Homo sapiens: one gene and its partners. The protein of the gene in region 1 purifies or fractionates together with the protein of each later gene. This does not show direct contact. Each region holds a gene or a part of one and is shown in the gene's direction. Other genes may lie near its edges.

Evidence for each region.
Region 2: the proteins of TMEM169 (region 1) and ST7 purify together in Homo sapiens (co-immunoprecipitation; 2 studies listed by BioGRID and IntAct, with this or other methods). This does not show direct contact.
Region 3: the proteins of TMEM169 (region 1) and ZDHHC18 purify together in Homo sapiens (co-immunoprecipitation; 2 studies listed by BioGRID and IntAct, with this or other methods). This does not show direct contact.
Region 4: the proteins of TMEM169 (region 1) and NDC1 purify together in Homo sapiens (co-immunoprecipitation; 2 studies listed by BioGRID and IntAct, with this or other methods). This does not show direct contact.

Annotation. Positions count from the first base shown.
Region 1 is NC_000002.12:216,098,075-216,102,136, forward strand, and holds part of TMEM169 (transmembrane protein 169), read left to right. Parts: intron 1-1,845; coding exon 1,846-2,468; 3' UTR 2,469-4,062.
Region 2 is NC_000007.14:117,133,670-117,139,049, forward strand, and holds part of ST7 (suppressor of tumorigenicity 7 protein), read left to right. Parts: intron 1-454; coding exon 455-523; intron 524-2,411; coding exon 2,412-2,566; intron 2,567-4,765; coding exon 4,766-4,863; intron 4,864-5,380. UniProt on the Homo sapiens protein: May act as a tumor suppressor.
Region 3 is NC_000001.11:26,852,857-26,858,236, forward strand, and holds the end of ZDHHC18 (palmitoyltransferase ZDHHC18), read left to right. Parts: coding exon 1-9; intron 10-869; coding exon 870-987; 3' UTR 988-4,748; downstream 4,749-5,380. UniProt on the Homo sapiens protein: Palmitoyltransferase that catalyzes the addition of palmitate onto various protein substrates, such as CGAS, HRAS and LCK. Acts as a negative regulator of the cGAS-STING pathway be mediating palmitoylation and inactivation of CGAS.
Region 4 is NC_000001.11:53,827,748-53,833,127, reverse strand, and holds part of NDC1 (nucleoporin NDC1), read left to right. Parts: intron 1-536; coding exon 537-638; intron 639-4,954; coding exon 4,955-5,129; intron 5,130-5,380. UniProt on the Homo sapiens protein: Component of the nuclear pore complex (NPC), which plays a key role in de novo assembly and insertion of NPC in the nuclear envelope.

The DNA of each region.
Region 1 (4,062 bases):
GTAGGCAGAGGCTGGATCATGGTGGCCCTTGCAGGTCTCGGTAAAGAGTTTGATATTTGTTTCAAGTGCAAGAGGAAGTCAATGGAGGACTTTTAAGCAAAGAGACATCATCTTGTTTATATTTGTAAAAGATCACTCTGGCTTCTCTATAAAGAATGAATTATAAGGGTTAAGACTGGATGCTGATGGGAGACTATTGTGTCCCTGCAGCCTCAGTAGCACTAATGGAGAAGTTCGGGTGATAGCAGGAGAAAGCTGGAGAAGAGAAGCTGGATTCAGGATGCAATCTGAACTTGCTGATTGATCAGAGGCAGGGAGTGAGGGAAAGAGAGGAATCAATAATGACTCCTGGGTGATTGACTGGAATGACAGGGAGGATAGATGGTGGTGGTGTTTGCTGTGATGAAGACTGTGAAAAGACAGGGCTTGGGAGACTGCACATTCCTTTTCTCTGGGTAAACAGAGTCCCTGCCACTATCCAGGGCCCTGCTCTTTAGGTGGCTTCATCTTATCTCTCAGTTGTGGGGCAAGGAGTCCACAGGGCCCAAGGTCCATGCCTGCCTAAAGGCTGTATTTTCCCATCCCCACCCAGACTTCTAGGGTGGCCAGCAGATAGCTATTTGGTTCTGTGTGGGTGCGTTGTGTGTGTGTGTGTGTGTGTATGTGTGGTGTGCGGTGTGGGTGTGGTGTATGTGGGGGTGTGTGCGCTGTTTGTGTGTGTCGTATGGTGTGTGTGTGTAATGTGTGGTGTGTGTGTGGATAGGCGTGGGTGGTATGGTATGGGGGAGTATATGGTGTACGTATGTGTGCGTGGTATGTATGTGGTATGTGTAGTGTGGTATGTATGGGTATGTGGTGTGTGTGTAGAATGTGTATATATGTGGTGTGTGCATACGGCATGTGGGTGGGTATGTGTAGTGTATATATGTGGAATGTGTGGGGGGCAGCATTTGTGTGCATGTATGCTGTGTGTATGTGTGGTGTGTGTGATGTGTATGTGTGTGTGTGGTGTGTTATGTGTGTATGTTGCATGTATGTGTGATATGTATGGGTATGTGGTGTGTATATGGTATGTGTATGTGTTGTATGTGGTATGTGTGGGGAGGTTGTGTGTGGCATGTGTGTGGTGTATGTGTTATGTATGGTGTTTGGTATATGTGGTGTGGGTATGTGGTGTGTATGTGGTATGTGTGATGTGCATGGTGTGTGGTGTGTGGTGTGTGTATGGGATAGTGTAGTGTGTGTATGTGGTACGTGATTGGGAGGTGGCATGTGTATGTGTGTGTATGGTGTGTATGTAGTATGTGAGAGGGTGTATGTGTATGGTATATGTGGGATGCATGTGTGTATGCGTGCAGCCCCTGGATGTGAGGGCTGGATCAGGCATGTGAGGGGCCCCCTCTCAGAAAGCACAGAACTAGGCATGAGAAGGGAAGGTGGTGGCCGTCCATCAGTCCAGTATCTTCACAGCACTTGTTACCTAGAAATAGGATCATCATTTGCATCATGTCTGTATCAAAGTTCGTCACACTCCTCCGTGCCACAGAGATTGTGCCAAGATTGAGGCCCCAAAAAGCGGAGAGAGTAGGTGAAAAGCTTAACCTGCCTCACAATTTTATCAGGGCCCAGGCACAAGGACTGAGAGTTCATGTGGGAGCAATAACACCAGTGGTCACTCTCCCGAGGGAGACCCACTCAGTCCGCCATTGAATCACTGACTCAGGACTGTGCCAGATGGTGTAAAAAAGGCTACTCTTGTCCTCATGCCCAGCCTGGGAGGGTGCAACATGGAGATGCAATGCCCACTCTTCTGATCTTGACTCTCACCTCCTTTGTACCCTGCAGATATGTGGAACCTGCCTCTGGACAGCCGCTACGTCACCTTAACTGGGACCATCACACGAGGGAAGAAAAAGGGTCAGATGGTGGACATCCATGTCACATTGACAGAGAAAGAGCTGCAGGAACTGACCAAACCTAAAGAGTCATCAAGGGAAACGACGCCTGAAGGAAGAATGGCCTGCCAGATGGGAGCTGACCGTGGGCCCCATGTGGTCCTCTGGACGCTGATCTGCCTGCCTGTGGTTTTCATCCTTTCTTTTGTTGTCTCTTTCTACTACGGCACTATCACCTGGTACAACATCTTCCTCGTGTATAATGAGGAAAGGACCTTCTGGCACAAGATCTCGTATTGCCCTTGCCTCGTTCTCTTCTATCCAGTGCTCATCATGGCCATGGCTTCTTCCCTCGGCCTCTACGCTGCTGTGGTCCAGCTCTCGTGGTCCTGGGAAGCATGGTGGCAAGCTGCCCGGGACATGGAGAAAGGCTTCTGTGGCTGGCTCTGCAGCAAGCTGGGTCTGGAGGACTGTTCTCCCTACAGCATTGTGGAGTTGCTTGAATCCGACAATATCTCAAGCACTCTCTCCAACAAGGACCCCATCCAAGAAGTAGAAACCTCCACGGTCTAAACTCCCAACAACTTACTCCCTCCTCTGGCCCCAGTAGCCTATATATCATCTTAAAATTCCAGCAGATTATTTCTTTAAATTACCCCCTACTCTCCGCAGTTCTTCTGGGAAATCAGAGTCCATACTGATCAGTTTTACCATCTTGAGGGTTCCAGGAGGGCATGGAGCAGACAAGCAATTGTGCCAAAGCAGTTCACCCAATGGACAAACTCTTTTTGATTCCCTGCCCTAAAATCACCATTTATTTAGGACAATGGAACTCTGCTGTGTGTCGTTTTGGGAGCCTGGAAGTGTTACTGGTGCCTGGAACTGAGGGGAGTATGTGACTAAATGTGTCAGGGAGAATAAAGAACCTCGGGGTAACCAAATCCACCAAGATAATAGACAGGGATGGAGTGAGACATTTAGGAAGCTGGACTACCACAGTGTAGCAGAAGGTAAAGATTTGTGTGTATCATTTAGATTTAGATTTAGCTGCATAGAATTAAAACCCTAAAATATCAGTGGCTTAAACAAGATAGAAGTGTATTTCTTTCTTGTGCAGAAGAAGTCTGGAGGCAGACCATCCTGGGACCCTGTGAAGTAATCCAGGTCCCAGGCTTCTTCTATTTCTCTACCATTAGTAGGATGTGACCCTTCTCACCCTTATCCCCAACATCCCAGTGCTGATTACATCTTCAGCCATCACATCCATGTTTCTGATAAAATAGAGGAAAGGGCAGAGAAGCACACACCCTTCCTGTTCAAGGAGACTTCCCAGAAGTCCCACTCGATTCTTCTTATATCTCATTGGCAAGACCTCAGTCACATGATGTCATGAGCAAAAGAGGCTGGAAATGTAGTTGTTTGGCTGGGTAGCTATATTCTCAGCTAAATACTGGGTTCACGCTAATTGGCAAGAAAAAGGAAGAATGGTTATTTGGGTTTTGTTTTGTTTTGTTTTGTTTCGCTTTAGAGACGGAGTCTCACTCTGTTGCCGAGGCTGGAGTGCAGTGGCACTATCTCGGCTCACTGCAACCTTCGCCTCCTGGGTTCAAGCAATTCTTGTGCCTTGGCCTCCCCAGTAGCTGGGATTACAGGTGCGTGCCACCATACCCGGCTAATTTTTGTATTTTTTTTTTAGTAGAGATGGGGTTTCACCATGTGCCCAGGCTGGTCTTGAACTCCTGACCTCAGGTGATCCGCCTGCCTCGGCCTCCCAAAATGCTGGGATTGTAGGCAAGAATGGTTATCTTGGTAGGCAAGTCAGAATCTTTGCCTCACAATGATCATTTAAATACATTCAGAACCCCCAAACTGCTAATATGGTTTTATTTATTTATTTATTCATTCATTTGTTTATTCATTTATTTATTTAGGCCTGAATCTTACACAGAGAATTTATATATAGATATTAGCTACATATACTTTGAATATGCTATACATCGATATTAGCACCTCACGTACTTTGCAATTAAGCTTCTGTAATGTCATGTGATTTGTTTTTGGAAAGGAATAGTGGACAGGAGAGTACAATTTATAATAGTAGCATAACTCTTTGTCCTGGTGGTGGAGGTGGGACGAGGTGGTGATATTTAACCTAGATTAAAGACCA
Region 2 (5,380 bases), on another chromosome or scaffold:
TTGTTTTATTATTATTATTATTATTGTTATTTTTGCAAGCTTCAGCTAATTTGGAATTGTAGCTCTCCTGACATTATTCTTATAAGCTCATTCCACTCTCTTATAGACCATCATTACATGCCCTCTTTCCATCTTTTAAAATATGTCCTTTAAAAATCTGACCTGGGAGAAATCTCTGTGAAGCCGTGTTGGTTACTTAAGTGCCACCCCTCTTTTCTTCCTGAGAGGATCATTTGTGATTGCAGTTACAGTTGAACATTTGGAAGCTGCTCAACCCTCTTAAACCATTTTTCCTTCTGAATCTCATGCCATTGAATCATGCCTCTTTTCTTTGAATTTTTTGAAGTCCACCTTCCCCTCTTTGATTACCCTGAACTCCGAAATGACATAGTGACTCTCTCTGAATGTTCCTATCAATTTTCATTTTACCAACTATTTTTTTCTTCTTGGTCAGAATTAGGTCCAGAGTTGAAGTTCCCCTAATTGCTTCCTCTACCATCTGGGAGATAAAATTGTTACCAAAGTAAGTCAAGAACCTGTTGGGTGCCCTACTTCTAACCAAATGAGACTTCTAGTGGATATCTGGATGGTTGACACCCCCATCACCACACTTTCTTGCTTCTGTATGTGTATTGTGTTGTGACAAGGATGCATCATCTATATCTTCCATCGAGCTGAGCAGTCTGTTCTGTACTCCCCAACCATTAGCACTTCTATTGCTCTCTCCTTTTTCCTTCACTCACAAGCTCTTAGCATGTTTCTATCCCAAACTCATGCGTTTCCACATAGATGTATGTTTCTTGGCCAGTAGTGCTACTCTGCCTCTCCTCCTAAGAATACCATTTGAAATATAAATAAGCAAAGCAAGCAAGCTAGCCCCAACCATTCTTGGGTTCCCAGCCCAACAACTACAATCTTATAGCTAATTCCTCTGATACTGTATCTACCACTCAGTATTACAATCTCAATTTTCACTTCATTACCCTTGCCTCATATTTATATGTTGGCATCTGAAGCCTTAAGCATTTCTTCTGATGCCTGTCCCAGTTATTTTCTCCAGTGAATCACTTGTATAGTTTCAGCATCATTATGGTTCTTTCCAAGTCATGGATGCTGCCATCTGTAGAAATTGGTTTTATAGCTGTTTTTCTGGGCATTTTTCTCCCTACCTCACCACATTGTTTAAAGCCCCATTGATGGTTCCTGCCTGAAATTAGAGAGACTGGCTAAAGACCTTACAGACCCTTCCTAAGGCTAAGATTAACTAGTAGCCCCAGCCCTTACATTAGCTGTGAAGTTCAGCCTCCTTTTCCTAGCTGGCTATTGCAGTTTGTGGACAGTAAAAGTAACATTTGGTTTTACTTTCTGTTTATTTTCTCTCTTGTGGTCTGATGGAAATAAGTAGGGAAATGGCCACAAGTGAGGCAGTGGGGAAGGAGAGTGAAAGGATGGGTGCAGGACCTGCGTGGTCTGTTACAGCCTCACCACTTCCCTATTACATTCCCTTTCTTTGGCAGTGGGTTGTTCCTCATATGCTTTGGAAGGTTTAAATTCACAAGAACTCCCCATGTTCATTAATTATCCTTTTGGCTTCCCACCTAAGAGGGTTGTTGAAAAGATTATATGAGATGATATATGTTAAGTGCCTGGTACAGTGCTTAATATATACTAAGCAACAAGTGGTAGCTATTGTTGTTGAAGGCATGAGATTTAACTTGTTAGCTACTGTGGCTGAGTCAGATTTTGAGTTCTTCAGAAATAACACTACTTGTAGGTTCTTCCAGTGTTCTCTGAAGCAGAAAGTCAGTGCTAACTGTAAAGAGATGTTGAAGCACTGTGTTTTTTTTCAGTGAGTAACTTGATTTAACGAATTTCTTATTCTGAAGAAATCCTTAGATTGAAGATAATCTGTGTTTAGTTAACAGAAGTAAACCTGTATATAGCACCTCTAACTTTGAGTGTTGGAAGGAACTATTTAATAACAGCTGTTATCATCACCATCACTAGCTGACATTTATTGAGCACTTAACCACATGCTGGCTACTGTACTGAGCACTTTACATGCATCACCTTACTTAACCTTCACAACAACACTGTGAACAAAGATTCCATGTTGTTCTCCATCAGGGAGGCAGAGTAAGAACTTGCCCAAAGTGACACACTAATATAAAGGGTGAAGTCCACATGTGAGCCCCATGCTCTTAACACTACGCATCCTACCTCTCAAGCTAAAATACAGATGTTTCTTTTGTACCATTATTTTGTGTCAGCAACTACAAACAGGAGTGCATGAACCAGTTGGCCACTCTGCATGTTTTGGCGTAACTCCTTGCCTTTCTGCATGAGCTCCTACAGTCTATTACCATGTCCTTGGCTTTGTAATTGATGGTGGCTATTATCTGAATGAACAGGTGTGCAACTGCTTATATTCTCTTGGCTGAAGAGGAAGCAACAACCATTGCTGAAGCAGAAAAATTATTTAAGCAGGCCCTGAAGGCTGGAGATGGCTGTTACCGACGCTCTCAGCAGCTACAACATCATGGATCCCAGTATGAAGCCCAACATAGTAAGGTTTCCTGCAGGTTGATGCATTGGGGGATCAGAATTGTAAAAATTATTAATCAGAGCAAATTTTTAGTCCAGTTCAAAATATGATTCTCCTAGACAAGAGAAAATATTGGCTTTTGCTTTGTTTTTATTAATTTTCTTCTTTCCTATAAGTGCAGTTAGTAAATAATTAACTTACAGCTTCATTGCTGTTTATATTCACATTCTCTTTCCTGCCCATAGATTCCTAACCGCAGAAATAAATGGCAGTAACCTTTAATAGTAACCTTTTTTCCTCCTGAGTTCTTACATATTTCTGTTCATCAGTTGCTTCTGCTCACAACTTTAAAACCCAGATGGGAAACAGGATTTAAATTAGCCATAGTGTTAGCAAAGGTTTTATCTTATAGATCTTCTACAACATGGATTGAAATAGGACAATTAAGAATATAAGTTATTGGTGATTGTATCAGCATTTATCTCTTACATAAGAAACATTGGTATTGGCTTCCAGAGAGAAAGAGCCATGAGCTCCTAGTTATTTATCTTTTTTATATTAAAATAATGCCTTTTTAAACTCCCCAAAAAACGCCTTTTTAAATTTAAGATAACTCTTTAAAATCTGAGACCTTTCACTTCAGTATACTAAACTGAAAGCCAATGACATTTCGTGGGGGAACAGTATAGAAACAAAACAACGAAATCATTTCTGGAATTCCCTGAGCCCCTCGACTCATCAGTTTGTTTGTTGTTGAAGCAGAAATTTAGCAGTCCTTGTGGTAAGAGAGTTAAGTATTTCCATGGTCCAACCAAAATTTGAGAGTATTTCCATGGTCCAACCAAAATTCACAAAGTTATTTTGTTTCTCACTTAGTTTCTCCCTCCTGAAACTTAGAGAGTAGGGATGTATCTCCTTCATATTTGAGATTATAAAATTAAATGTTAACGTTAAACTTGGGTTTGGTGTAGAAACTGACTGCATTAGTCCCCATAACTAAGGTGCCAGCAAAATCTTTGCATTATAGCCTGCATATACATGAGTATGTCCTCACATGTACCACATCAATTCCTAAGTTTTTATTTTTATTCTGCAGCATATATATGCTAATAAAGTCTCTAATCACCATCTATGTCTCACTTTTTAATAAAAAAGTATTTTAGTGTAATGCAGTGCATTTTGAAGACATGTAGTAAATGTGTATTTTGTGAACTAAATGGAAATCAATACATAAAATTACATAACCTATAATACAACATTAATTTTCTTTCTTTTCTTCTCTAAATTAAATCTTTTCAACCTGTTGCCTAAATCCATCCAAAAATATAATCACATTTTTAAAATAATTTGTAGGTACTTGGCAGATTTTCAGCACACATCTTGTTCTCATTGTTTAAGTCTTGAAATGTTAGGACTTTGGTCTTAACATCTTTTAATAGCTGCATATTATACATGTACTTAATCTATAACAGGTGTGTCATATTTTCTCAAACATGGTAATTTTTATCGAGGATTAAGCACATGCATGTTCTCATTGGTCTGAAAACATATCCAACAAGACATATAATTAAATAAAAGATTAAGATTAGAAATTGTTAACGTACTTTTTAAGAGTCATTTTAGTGATTGTTGTTACAACTATTTAGCTTGTCAATTCTTTCTCTAACACTAGGGTAGTTTTTCATTTTGTTGCATACTCTATTGTCATATCTGGAATGTGTTATATTGCCATCTAAAATCAACTGCTTAGGGGACCTGGAGATGATTATGATGTCACTAGTGTTAGGGAAAGAATAATATAAAGCAGAAGTTTAAGATGAGGCTTCTCCAGACTTAATGTCAAGAATGAAAAAAAAATAGTTCATCAGGATGTAACCTGAGATTCACCTCTGCATCTTTACCAAAAGAATGCACGCTTGAAGAATGTGGAATTCCTGCTTGTAAACCGTATACACTGTGGGTATGTTCATTTTCGCAGCACTTTGTGGCAGATGATTTTATTTATTATCAAATATTCAACATCCTCACTCAAAAGCATGGATTAGGTAATTAGTCAGATGATTTGACCTTTGGGAGTCTAAGTGCTTTTACTTTACTTGATCTTCATTCTACTATTAACAAAGTTGTCAGTGCTATGAAAATTTCCTTTAGGGGCAAGGCAAATGGGCCTCTGTATTTTTTTTTTTTTTAAATGTTGGTGTTTTATATCTCCCTCTTCAGGACGAGACACCAATGTCTTGGTGTACATCAAAAGAAGGCTAGCAATGTGTGCCAGAAGACTCGGGAGGACCAGGGAAGCAGTGAAAATGATGAGAGATGTGAGTTTGAGTTTGTGTTTGGGATCAGTGGCTTACAGATATAGGAGCCCGCTGAATGGCCATAGCAGTCTGTACCAGTGATGGTGTGGTGGTCCCATGGGTTCTGGAGCCAGACTGTGTGGGGTTCAACTCTAGTTCCCAATTTACTAGATGAATGATGTATGTTGGGCAAGTTACTCAGCTTCTCTTTGCCCTAGTTTCTTCATCTCTAAAATGGGAACAACAATAACAGTCCTCACAATTACTTCTTAGAATTTTTTCGAGGACTAAATGAGATAATACATACAAGCTTCTAATAGAGTGGCTGGCATATTTTAAAAATGTCAATAGATGTCCTTATTAAACCTTTGGGGCTGCAGCTGGAAGCCAATAATGAGACCAGCCATGTTAGCAAACTGATTTTTTTTCTGTGTAGTTGTTAGGAAGATTCGAATTAATTATGGGTCAAATTACTACTCTCAAATTTAATAATATTATGAGTTAATCCTATTGTAGTTGTTTCAAGCATTTTCCTAGA
Region 3 (5,380 bases), on another chromosome or scaffold:
ACCTCCCAGGTAAGTGAGCGGGGTGCGGAAGAGGGGTAACAGGGCCATGCCTGGCCAGTGATCAAAGTGTTCCTGGATATCAGCCGACCTCCCCCTACACCCTAGATGCCCTCCGTCCACTACCCCCTGGAGGGCATTTGTCATGTGACGGAATTCCATGGAGAATTGTTATTTAATCACGTGCTCATTGTAGAAAAAAAAAATTAAGTACAAAACGTAAAACAGAGGAGCATTGGATATGACATGTAATTCTACTCCCCGGGGGTAGCCACCATGACTGTTTCAGCCATGTTTGAATGACACTGCCCTTCCGGTTGCCCACTGCCTGGACTGGGTGGCGACTCCATCCTCTCCTGGCAGTAGGAACCCTGGGGACTCAGCCCTGCTGGGTCACTCCCTGTTCATCCTGACACCAGGGGGCACCAGAGTTCCAGAACGGGGATTACATTGCTGTGGGTACTGCTAAGACAAGTCATTCCCACACAGTCATGTCACCTACCCCACCCAGTATCCCTGTCACCCAGCCTGCCTAGAGGGGAAGGGAACATAGGAATTTCATAGTCATCAAATACCTATTCATCCTTGCTTTCCTCCCTCACCTGCAGCCTGGCTTCTTGGCAGCCAGACAGGTGGGCCAGTTGGAATTAATAGTGAATAAATTCTGTGGCCAAAAGCCAGGTGGCCAGAGGGCAGAGAGAGGCCTGCCAGAGGTAAGAGTCTTGGGCCCCCAGATGGGCAGCAGCTCTCCTTTCCTCAGCCTTTCTCAGCCTGGGCCTTTCCTTGGCTGAGATAGACTCTGCCGTCCAACCCCTGGCCTAGAGCCTCAGTGTTGGGCAGAGCCCTCATGTGTCTCCCTTGTGTTTTGGAAGCCTAATTGACCGGAGGGGATTTGTGCAGTCCGACACCGTGTTGCCCTCACCCATCAGAAGCGATGAGCCAGCCTGCAGAGCCAAGCCTGATGCCAGCATGGTAGGAGGCCACCCCTGACCACGGCTCAGTACTTGCCACCTGCTGGCCTGTCTGACCCTCCGCACTCACCTGCCGGGACCCTCCCTATTCCATCCAAGGGAAGCAGAACTGCCAAAGACTCAAGTCTTTTCATATTTATTTCCCATCCTGCGTGGCTTTCCCTGAACTGTTCCGTGGCTGTGCCCTCTGCTCCCCAAACCCAGGTTCCCACAGCCTTGGGCCCTAGGTACCCCAGCTGATCAGTGCCAGGAGAGACCAGAGCCTCTGGAGGCTACCCAGGGGACCACACCAAGTCCTTGCCTGTGCCGGGCGAGCCCTGTGTGAGTGAGGCTGTGAACTGAGCGTGAGGCCTCCCAGGTGGGGGAACTGCTTGGGCCTTGCTGAGCCAGGGTCCTCAGGGTGAAGCAGGACTGAGGAGTGGCCAGCTCTGGATAGCTGGCTGTGGAGAGGAAGCCTCCATGGGCTGCTTTGGTCTGTGGGCTCCTTCATTCCCTTGGTGATAATTTCCCTTTATTCTGTGGGATTTTTGGTGGGGTTTTCCCCCCTTTTTTATGGAGTTGGCCAATAGGATTGAGTTGGGGCTCCAGTAGAGAAGGCAGGGTTGGTGGTGGGTGGGGGCAGCCTGTATCAGACAAAGGTAAATCAGCCAGCCAGGCACCCACAGCCTCAGCTCCTGTGCAGTTCCTGGGCAGCACAGTGGAAGTGGGAGCCTGGTCCTTCCCCTGCCCATGGAGAGCTCTTTAAGGGATCCCAGCCTGCCCCTCCACTTCTCTCCCAAGCCAGGTCCCGGCATGGGTGGGTTATGCTCATGCTGGCAATACTTGAAACGGGTTTATTAATGCTGGGTATTTTGCACAATTTTATAGACCTCTTTTCTACATAGTCTTTTTTAAATGGAAGGAGAAAATGTCAGCCACATTACTGTCTGTGTAGTGCCAGGTGAAGGGTTATCAGAAGGCTGGTTGGTTTTAATAAGTTTATTCCAAGAGACCTTCTGGCTGGAATGAGTGAGAGTGTGTGTGCATGTGTGTGTGTGTTCATGTGTGCCCTGTATGAATGTGGCTGGCTCCCATATCCCCTGGGCTGCCCCCTGCCCCATCCCCTTTGAGTGTCAGAAGCACTCTGAGCCAAGGGGACAGGGGGCACGTGCACTGGTCACGAGAAAACCCTGGGCTCCCACTGGGGCTCAGCCCAGCCTCCTATCTTTCCTTCTTCTATGGACTTCAGACAGCCAGTGTCTGGGGACTCTGCCACTCTACCCCCAGCCCTACCCACCAGCCCCCAGGTGAGGCTTCCAGCTGGGACCTGCCCAGACAGGCTGAGCCTGGGCGTGGTGGGTGGGGTGATGGCTCTGGGGAGCGGCTGCCATCCTACAAGCCACACCCCCTCCTCTGAGCTCTGAATATGGGACCCAGTGCCAGGAGCTGGAAGACAAGGTGTTTCTGCCAAACGGGGACCTCCATCCAGAGAAAAGGAAGAAGGTGCAGGGTGGGCCAAGAGGCAAGTGAAGGTTGGCCTGAGTCTGGGCCGGAAACTCAGAGGATGTTTCTCCTCTGCTGGGAGCTGTAGTTTCTTATCAAAATAGATATTGTTCCACCATCCCCCTCCTTGGCCCTTCAAGTGGGCTGAAGCCCTTGGAAAGTGACATAGGAAGTCCCCAGATCTTGCCCTTCTCACTCCAGAGGCTAGTGGTCACAGACAGCTGGGAATGGCAGCCACAGAGGGTCCCCTCTGGGAGAAACAGCTTCACCCCAGCCTCAGGGCCCTGGGCCATCACTGCAGTGGCCCTGGGAGGTGAGGAAGAAGCTGGCTAGAGGAGGGGGCTCCCACCTACCTTTTATTTAAGCCAGTATTCTTTGTTCCTGCTTGTAATAAAACTTCAGTTTATAAGAGTTGCTTTGCTTTGGTTTGGTTTTTGTTTGCTTTTCCTTTGCTGAGGCCCCAACTGGGAGCCCTCTGTTCTTTCAGACAAATTTGGTTCTTTCCTGGGGAGACTGTGAGAAGGCAGGCAGCCCAGTGATCTGGCTACATTTTCCCTCACCTGGCTGGAGCTCTGTCCGCTGGAGGAAGAGCAGAGAGGGCTGCGGCTGAGCCCCCATGGGCACGTGAAAAGAGGCCATCCTGTCCCCTCTTTGTCCCCTCCACCTTCCCCTGCCTCAGGGGCTTGGAGACCCCCAAATTCTTCTTCCCTACTGCCTTTCCACTCCGATCCCCAATGAGTGCCCAGCTAAGAAAATGTTTGAGACAGTAGATTCCAGTTTGAGAGCCGGAGCTTCCCTGGCTACCACCTCCAACCTGGGCACCAGGGCCCAGCCAGACAACTCATAACACTGGCCCACCTCTCTGGTATCTCCCTCAGGAGGACACCTGTCAGGATTTTGCCATCTCCTGCACAGCCTGAGGGGAGCTAACAGGCCTCTTTGCAGAGGGTTAGCTGGTAAGACCGTTTCTTCCCTGTCGGCCAGCACTGCCCGCTCCCCTCACACACCATCTCATCCTCATCGCATGCCTCGCCAACCCCATGGAGCCCGTCCATCTGTCTGGTGTGTGGTGCGGTGTGTGTGCTGGTGGTGGTAGGGTCTCCAGGGACTCCCCGCTAAGCAGAAGGATCGGGATATAGGGCAAGGCTAAAAGCCCAGCCCCATTGTGGACTGAGGAAGTAGCTTCTCGCAGAGCAGCTCTCCAGCTGGAAGAGGAGGTGGAGGGTGAGGCTGGGGAGAGGATGGCGAACCTGCCCTGAGGTGCTTGGGTCTGTGCTGGTGGGGTCCTGGTATGCAGGGGCCACCGGTCACTAACACTCTTATGTCCTGGCTTTCTGTCCCCGCTGAGCTTTCTCTCACCCGCCCGTTTTCTCTCCTGCTTCATTGCCTGCTGCCTAAGCCTTGGCCCTTCTCTCGGGCAGAGGCAGGTGCTGTGGCAGCACCTCTCCCCACCACCGGGGCCCCTGCAGGCCGCCTCCCTCCTCCCAGGCCTGCTAACCCTCTCTCTTCTCCTTCTTTGCTGTCCTGCCGGGGATCTCCAGTGTGTGCGGGGGCTTAAGGACCTCCTGAGGACCGCTGCTCTCTGCCTCTCCAGGAATGGCCTGGGGGGAGCCAGGCACCCGGCACCTCCACCTGCCTAACCTGTGGCCCATCTGCCACCATCTGTGCCTACAGGGTCTGCCCCCCAGCCTGCCCGGCCTGTGTGCTCTCTAGGACCCCCATAGGGGGCAGGGGCTGGCCTCTTTGCCCCATTCCCGCTCCATGCCGGCCAGAGTGTAGAAAGCCATAACGCAGCCATCAGCACAATAATGTGACTCTACGCTGATATGCTCCCTCTCTCCTCCACTGACTTCCCCTTCCCGGATTTGTGAGGTGTCAAGACTAGGAATCTGGCCTTAGAGCCTGCCCCTCCACCCCCTCAGATCAGGCATAGCCATAGTCAAGCCCAGCAGGTTTCCTCAGGAGCTGTCTGGGGTGTTGATGGTGGATGACGCTGCTGAACAAGTTTGGTGACTGTTCTAAGCACAACTGGCTTGATACTGTTCCCACGGCCTGTCCACCTCCCACCCCCAACCCTCCACCAGAGTAGGTAGGATGTAGGGAGGGTGCGTGCCTCCTTTGCTCTAGGCACTGAGGGACCAAGCTAGCCGTGCACAGCCCCATACACTTCAGGGGACTAAAGGAAAGAGCTGAGCCAAGGAAAATCAGCTGAGCCCAGGGCTGGGGGCTGCTTGTCTGCTATCCTGTACCTTTTTTTTTTTTAACCAAAATAAAGATTCCCCTCTTCTTGCCATACCATTGGCTGTCTGGTGGCGCCTTTACTTTGGGGCCCAGGGATGGGACCTGCAGTGGGCGTGTGGAACATATGGCTCCCCCTCGCTCCCAGCTTTCTTCCAGCTGGCCAGTGCTGCTCTGGAGATTTACAAGCACAACGAAGCCAGGAGGGACACAGGAAAAGTGGCTGACATCCTTTTCACTCTGCCCCTCCAGAACTCTTGGTCTCAATTCCAGACACCACCCAGCCTTAGCTGACCTCTGGATTCTGATAGGTCCCAGTGCAGGCTGAGACAGAGGGTTTAACTCCAGTTTGGGACTGCCATACCCATGAACTGAGCCCAGCCCAGGGTAACGATCTCATGGAAACTTCTCTCTCCCCAGTTGCTGCACTACATCAAGATACACACATGTGCATACACTGTACTATGGGCTAAAAAAATAGCTACCGCTACCGTTCAGCAAGGGCTTGCCGAGTCCCGGGCCCATTTTCTCATCTTAACCTGTGAGGAGGATGATGTCAGCCTTTTTACAGATGAGGGAACTGAGACTCAAGGAAGAAACAGGAGCTGCCCAAGGTCACCCAGCTGGCAAAGCAGCAAATCCCAGATCGGAACCTGATCTCTGCCCCGAGCTCTGAGCCATCTGCACTACCC
Region 4 (5,380 bases), on another chromosome or scaffold:
GTTTTGTCTGATGTTAACTGGGTCATTTAAGAAATTGTAGTATAATTTTAAAGTACCTGGGGCCAGGTACGAATAACTCACACTGTAACTCCTTTTTTCTCCCCCCCTTTGTTTTTGAAACAAGGTCTTTCTCTGTTGCCTAGGCTGGAGTGCAGTGGCATGATCACTGCTCACTGCAGCCTCAAACTCCCAGGCTCAAGTGATCTTCCCACTTCAGCCTCCTGAGTAGCTGGAGACTGCAGGTGTGCACCACCACACCTGGCTATCTTTGTATTTTTGTAGAGATAGGGTTTTGTCATGTGCCCAGGATGGTCTTGAGCTCCCTGGCTTAGTGATCCCCCCATGCCCAGCCCACACTGTAGTTCTTGAGTTGATATCTCATTGAACCTGTCAGTGGTGTACAATTAAATTCTTGAAGAAAAGATAACCTTTAAAATTAATGACAATTGTGGTTCAAGCTCTTTTTATATTGCAGTGTCCTGAACGTGACTACATGACTGAATAACCTTTACTAATTCATCTCTCTTGTGTTTTAGATTCTTTCAGTGACCTGTATAGTTCCTATGTAATCTTTTACTTCCTGCTGCTGTCAGTGGTAATAATAATAATAAGTATTTTCAATGTGGAGTTCTATGCAGGTGAGTTTTCAAATGTTAACCTTCTTAGAAATATGCGAATTTATTTAACTAAGGGAAGACTTAGTACATTTTATATGTGAATGTGTTTTGTGTCAAAAATTTAAAAACGTATACAGAATCATATGCTTCAAATGTTGTACCTTAAAATTTATTTGGGTGCTAGTTTCTGTTTTAAAAATATTTTTAGACTTTTTAGGACAAATATTATATGATTCTACTTATACGAGGTATCTGGAGTACTCAAATTCATAGAGAAAGAAAGTAGAATGCTGGTTACCAGGCGCTGGGGGAGGGGGAGTGGAGAATTGCTGTTTAATGGGTAGAGTTGTGGAAGATGGAAAAGTTTGGGAGCTGGATGGTGGTAGTGGTTATACAACAATATGAGTGTACTTATGCCGCAGAACTGTGTACTTAAAAATGGTTCGAATAGTGAATTTTATTATTTTACCACAATAAAAAAATTTAGACCTTTTAATAGTTCATAACTAGTATTAAAGCTGTGATTTAGCAGATACATTATGAAAAGAATTCCTTTATAGGGAAGACCAGGTGATTTCTAAGTTTTTTTTTCAAATATAATAATCTATAATACTGTGATTAAAAAAAAACTTATGTTTTGCCTTGGAGAATCACCTGCTGGATTCCAGAGCTTTTAATTTTTCTGTTTCTCTTCATATTCTTTCTGCCTTTTCAGATTCCTTGAGACTGCCTTTAAGATACAAGTTGTGGCAGATTCACATAAGGAAAAAAAGATACAATAAGAAGCTTTTCCTGACTCTTATTTTTTTACTATAACATCATTTTCCTTTTTTTTTTTTGAGACAGAGTCTCGCTCTGTCGCCAGGCTAGAGTGCAGTGGTGCGATCTCAGCTTACTGCAATCTCTGCCTCCTGGGTTCAAGTGATTCTCCTGCCTCAGCCTCCGGAGTAGCTGGGATTACAGGCACGCGCCACCACGCCCGGCTAATTTTTGTATTTTTAGAAGAGAGGGGGTTTCACCATGTTGGCCAGGATGGTCTTGATCTCTTGACCTTGTGATCTGCCCTCGGCCTCCCAAGTGCTGGGATTACAGGCGTGAGCCACTGCACCCAGCCCATTTTCCTTTTTTTAAACTTAAAAAAAATTTTTTAAATGTACATGTTCCATATGTGCTAACATGTCTAAACCTTAAATTAGTTTATCATAATGTCATGTTTTAGATTTTACATTTCATTGATTATATGAATATTCTGTTTATTTATTTATTTTATTATTATTATCATTTTTGAGACGGAGTCTTGCTCTGTCGCCCAGGCTGGAGTGCAGTGGCGCGATTTCGGCTCACTGCAAGCTCTGCCTCCTAGGTTCACGCCGTTCTCCCGCCTCAGCCTCCCAAGTAGCTGGGACTACAGGCACCCGCCACCATGCCTGGCTAATTTTGTTTTTGTATTTTTAGTAGAGACGGGGTTTCACCATGTTAGCCAGGATGGTCTCAATCTCCTCACCTCGTGATCGGCCTGCCTTGGCCTTCCAAAGTGCTGGAATTACAGGCATGAGCCACCATGCTTGGCCTATTTATTATTTTTTTTGAGAGAAACAGATGCGGTAGGATCATAGAATACTCAGACCGGGAGGAATTTTTTTTTTTTGAGACGGAGTTTCACTCTTGTTGCCCAGGCTGGAGTGCAATGGCGTGATCTCGGCTCACCGCAACCTCTGCCTCCCGGTTTCAAGCGATTCTCCTACCTCAGCCTCCTGAGTAGCTGGGATTACAGGCAGGCACCACCACACCTGGCTAATTTTTTCTATTTTTAGTAGAGATGGGATTTCTCCATGTTGGTCAGGCAGGTCTCAAACTCCTGACCTCAGGTGATCGGCCTGCCTCGGCCTTCCAAAGTGTTGGGATTACAAGCATGAGCCACCGCGCCCAGCCTACATCATTTGCCTTTTTAGTTCTTCAACACTTCCTTGTAAAATCTGGCGTAAAATTTCAAATTCTGACTTTGGATGTTACAATACGTATCCTTTTCCCTTGCTTGCTTTCTGTTTTTGGTCTCCAAGATGGAGTCCAGCTTTGTCGCCCAGGCTGGAGTGCAGTGGCACGATCTCGGCTCACTGCAACCTCCACCTCCCAGGTGCAAGCAATTCTCCTGCCTCAGCCGCCTGAGTAGCTGGGATTACAGGCGTATGCCACCATGCCTGGCTAATTTTTGTATTTTTAGTAGAGACGGGGTTTCACCATGTTGGTCAGGCTGGTCTCGAACTCCCGACCTCAAGTGATCCGCTTGCCTTGACCTCCCAAAGTGCTGTGATTACAGGTGTGAGCCACTGGGCCCAGCCTCGCTTTCTTTCTTTTTTTTTGAGATGGAGTCTCACTCTGTTGCCCAGGCTGGAGTGCAGTGGTATGGTCTTGGCTCGCTGACGCCTCTGCCTCCCGGGTTCAAGTGATTCTCCTGCCTCAACCTCCTGAGTAGCTGGGATTACAGTTGCCTGCCACCTCGCCCGTCTATTTTTTGTATTTTTAGTAGAGGTGGGGTTTCACCATATTGGCCAGGCTGGTCTCAAACTCCTGAACTCATGATCTGCCCACCTTGGCCTCCCAAAGTGCTGGGATTACAGGCATGAGCCACTGCACTCAGCCTGCTTTCTTAATTCCTCACTATTGACTAGTAAGCTTTTTCCATGCAAGCCCTATTCGAAACTCCTTGGCTTACAGCCACACTTAAACAGAGTGTTCTTTCATACTCTCCCATATGCTTGGGTCATCTTCTGTATGTAATATGTCAGTTGAGGGGTCCCCAGCCAGTCCTTCTTAAAGCCTGACTATTCACTTTGGCTCATTCCTTCAGTAACCATCCCTTATGCATTTACTATATGCCATGCATTGTGTGGAGAGAAAAGAGAAATGATAGGTCCCATCTTTCTCCAGAGATCGTGATTAATGGAGAGACAGTAAACATGAAGCATATTTGATTACAGTACATTGGATGGTAAGAGCTTGTATAGGAGCACCACTTGCCCCAGCATGGGGGAACTTGAGGAGATGATCCTTAAACCAAGCCTTGCAGGATGAGTTGAATTAAGTAGACAAAGAAGGAAAATGATGTTCTAGAGAGAAGGTATAGCATATAAAAAGGCTTAGTGACATGAGAGGGTTTGGTATATTTAGAGTGTTATAAGTTAGTTGCACAGTCAGTAGGACCTTGTGGGCATTTCTGGTTGGGAGGGAGAGGTCATAGGAACCTCTTCCTCAAAGTATAAAGCACCTGAAACTTGTCCCTTCATACTTAATTTTCTACCTCCTGCCATCTCTTTACTTTGAGTATAGTAAGAGCAAAATACCTACATAGATAGATCAGGGAACCCTAGGCTAGCTGTTTCCAAAGGTAAACATCCCTCATGTCCTACCCATAGTTGCCTCCCTAGCTCATTTGCAGAAAATGTTTTTGGATTGTCTGAAGGGTATTAAAAATCCCTATATAAGCATTTATCTTAGCATTTATGTTGTCAGTATTTACCTACTTTATGGTTTATTTTTCGTAAGTGGATTATATATTGACAGTTTCAAATGCTGATGGCAGGAGTTCTTTTTAAAAAGTAGGCCAGGCATGGTGGCTCGTGCCTGTAATCCCAACACTTTGGGAGGCCAAGGTGGGTGGATCACCTGAGGTCAGGAGTTTGAGACCAGCCTGACCAACATGGTGAAACCCCATCTCTACTAAAAATACAAAAACTAGCCAGGCATGGTGGCAGGCACCGGTAATCCCAGCTACTTGGGAGGCTGAGGCAGGAGAATCGCTTGAATCCAGGAGGCAGAGGTTGCAGTGAGCCAAGATTGCGCCACTGCACTCCAGCCTGGGCAACAAGAGCGAAACTCCGTCTCAAAAATAAATAAAATAAAATAAAATAAAATAAATAAATAAATAAATAAAAAGTCAGTATTCAGGAGCTGAACCCAGTCACTCTCCCACACTGCAAGACCATTACAGTAGTCCATATATGAAAAAAAAAATCATTATTCTTTTATGGTGCTTAGGAGAATACTAGGATAGGCACTATTGGAACTATTAGGAAATTTTAATGAAAAATGTTGATCATGCTGTCCTTAGGTTTCATCTCTAGATTCTTTGGGTTTTTTTGTGTCTGTTTATTCATGCTTTCCTCAAATTTTTTTAACTTAGAATTTTTAACTTTAAATTTTTCTGTATTGTATTTGCGTTGACTGTGGATTTCTCTCTGCCTTTGGAACATTTGTGCAAGGATGAGAGGGGATAGTTTAGATCCTCTAACTGCATATGCTGTAGGTTATAAAGCCACAGTAATGTGTTTCCTTTGCAGTTGTGCCTTCTATTCCTTGCTCCAGACTAGCTCTGATAGGGAAGATCATTCATCCTCAGCAACTCATGCACTCATTTATTCATGCTGCAATGGGAATGGTGATGGCCTGGTGTGCTGCAGTGATAACCCAGGGCCAGTACAGCTTTCTTGTGGTTCCCTGCACTGGTACTAACAGGTAATATTAAATATATATTTCCTTAGGAATCTCATTTACTTACTAAGCCAAAGGTGACCTATATAGGTTAATCCTATGAGTATTCTTTGCTTTCCAGACTTCTGCAAAAGGTGCTTTTTGCATATATCAAGTGTTTTTAATATTTTGTGTTTATTGATTTCAGCAATTAAAAAAATTTATTATGTGCAAGGTGCTATGCGATTTATGAGAGTGACTCAAACATAGACTATAAGCTCTTTGAGAGTTGAGAA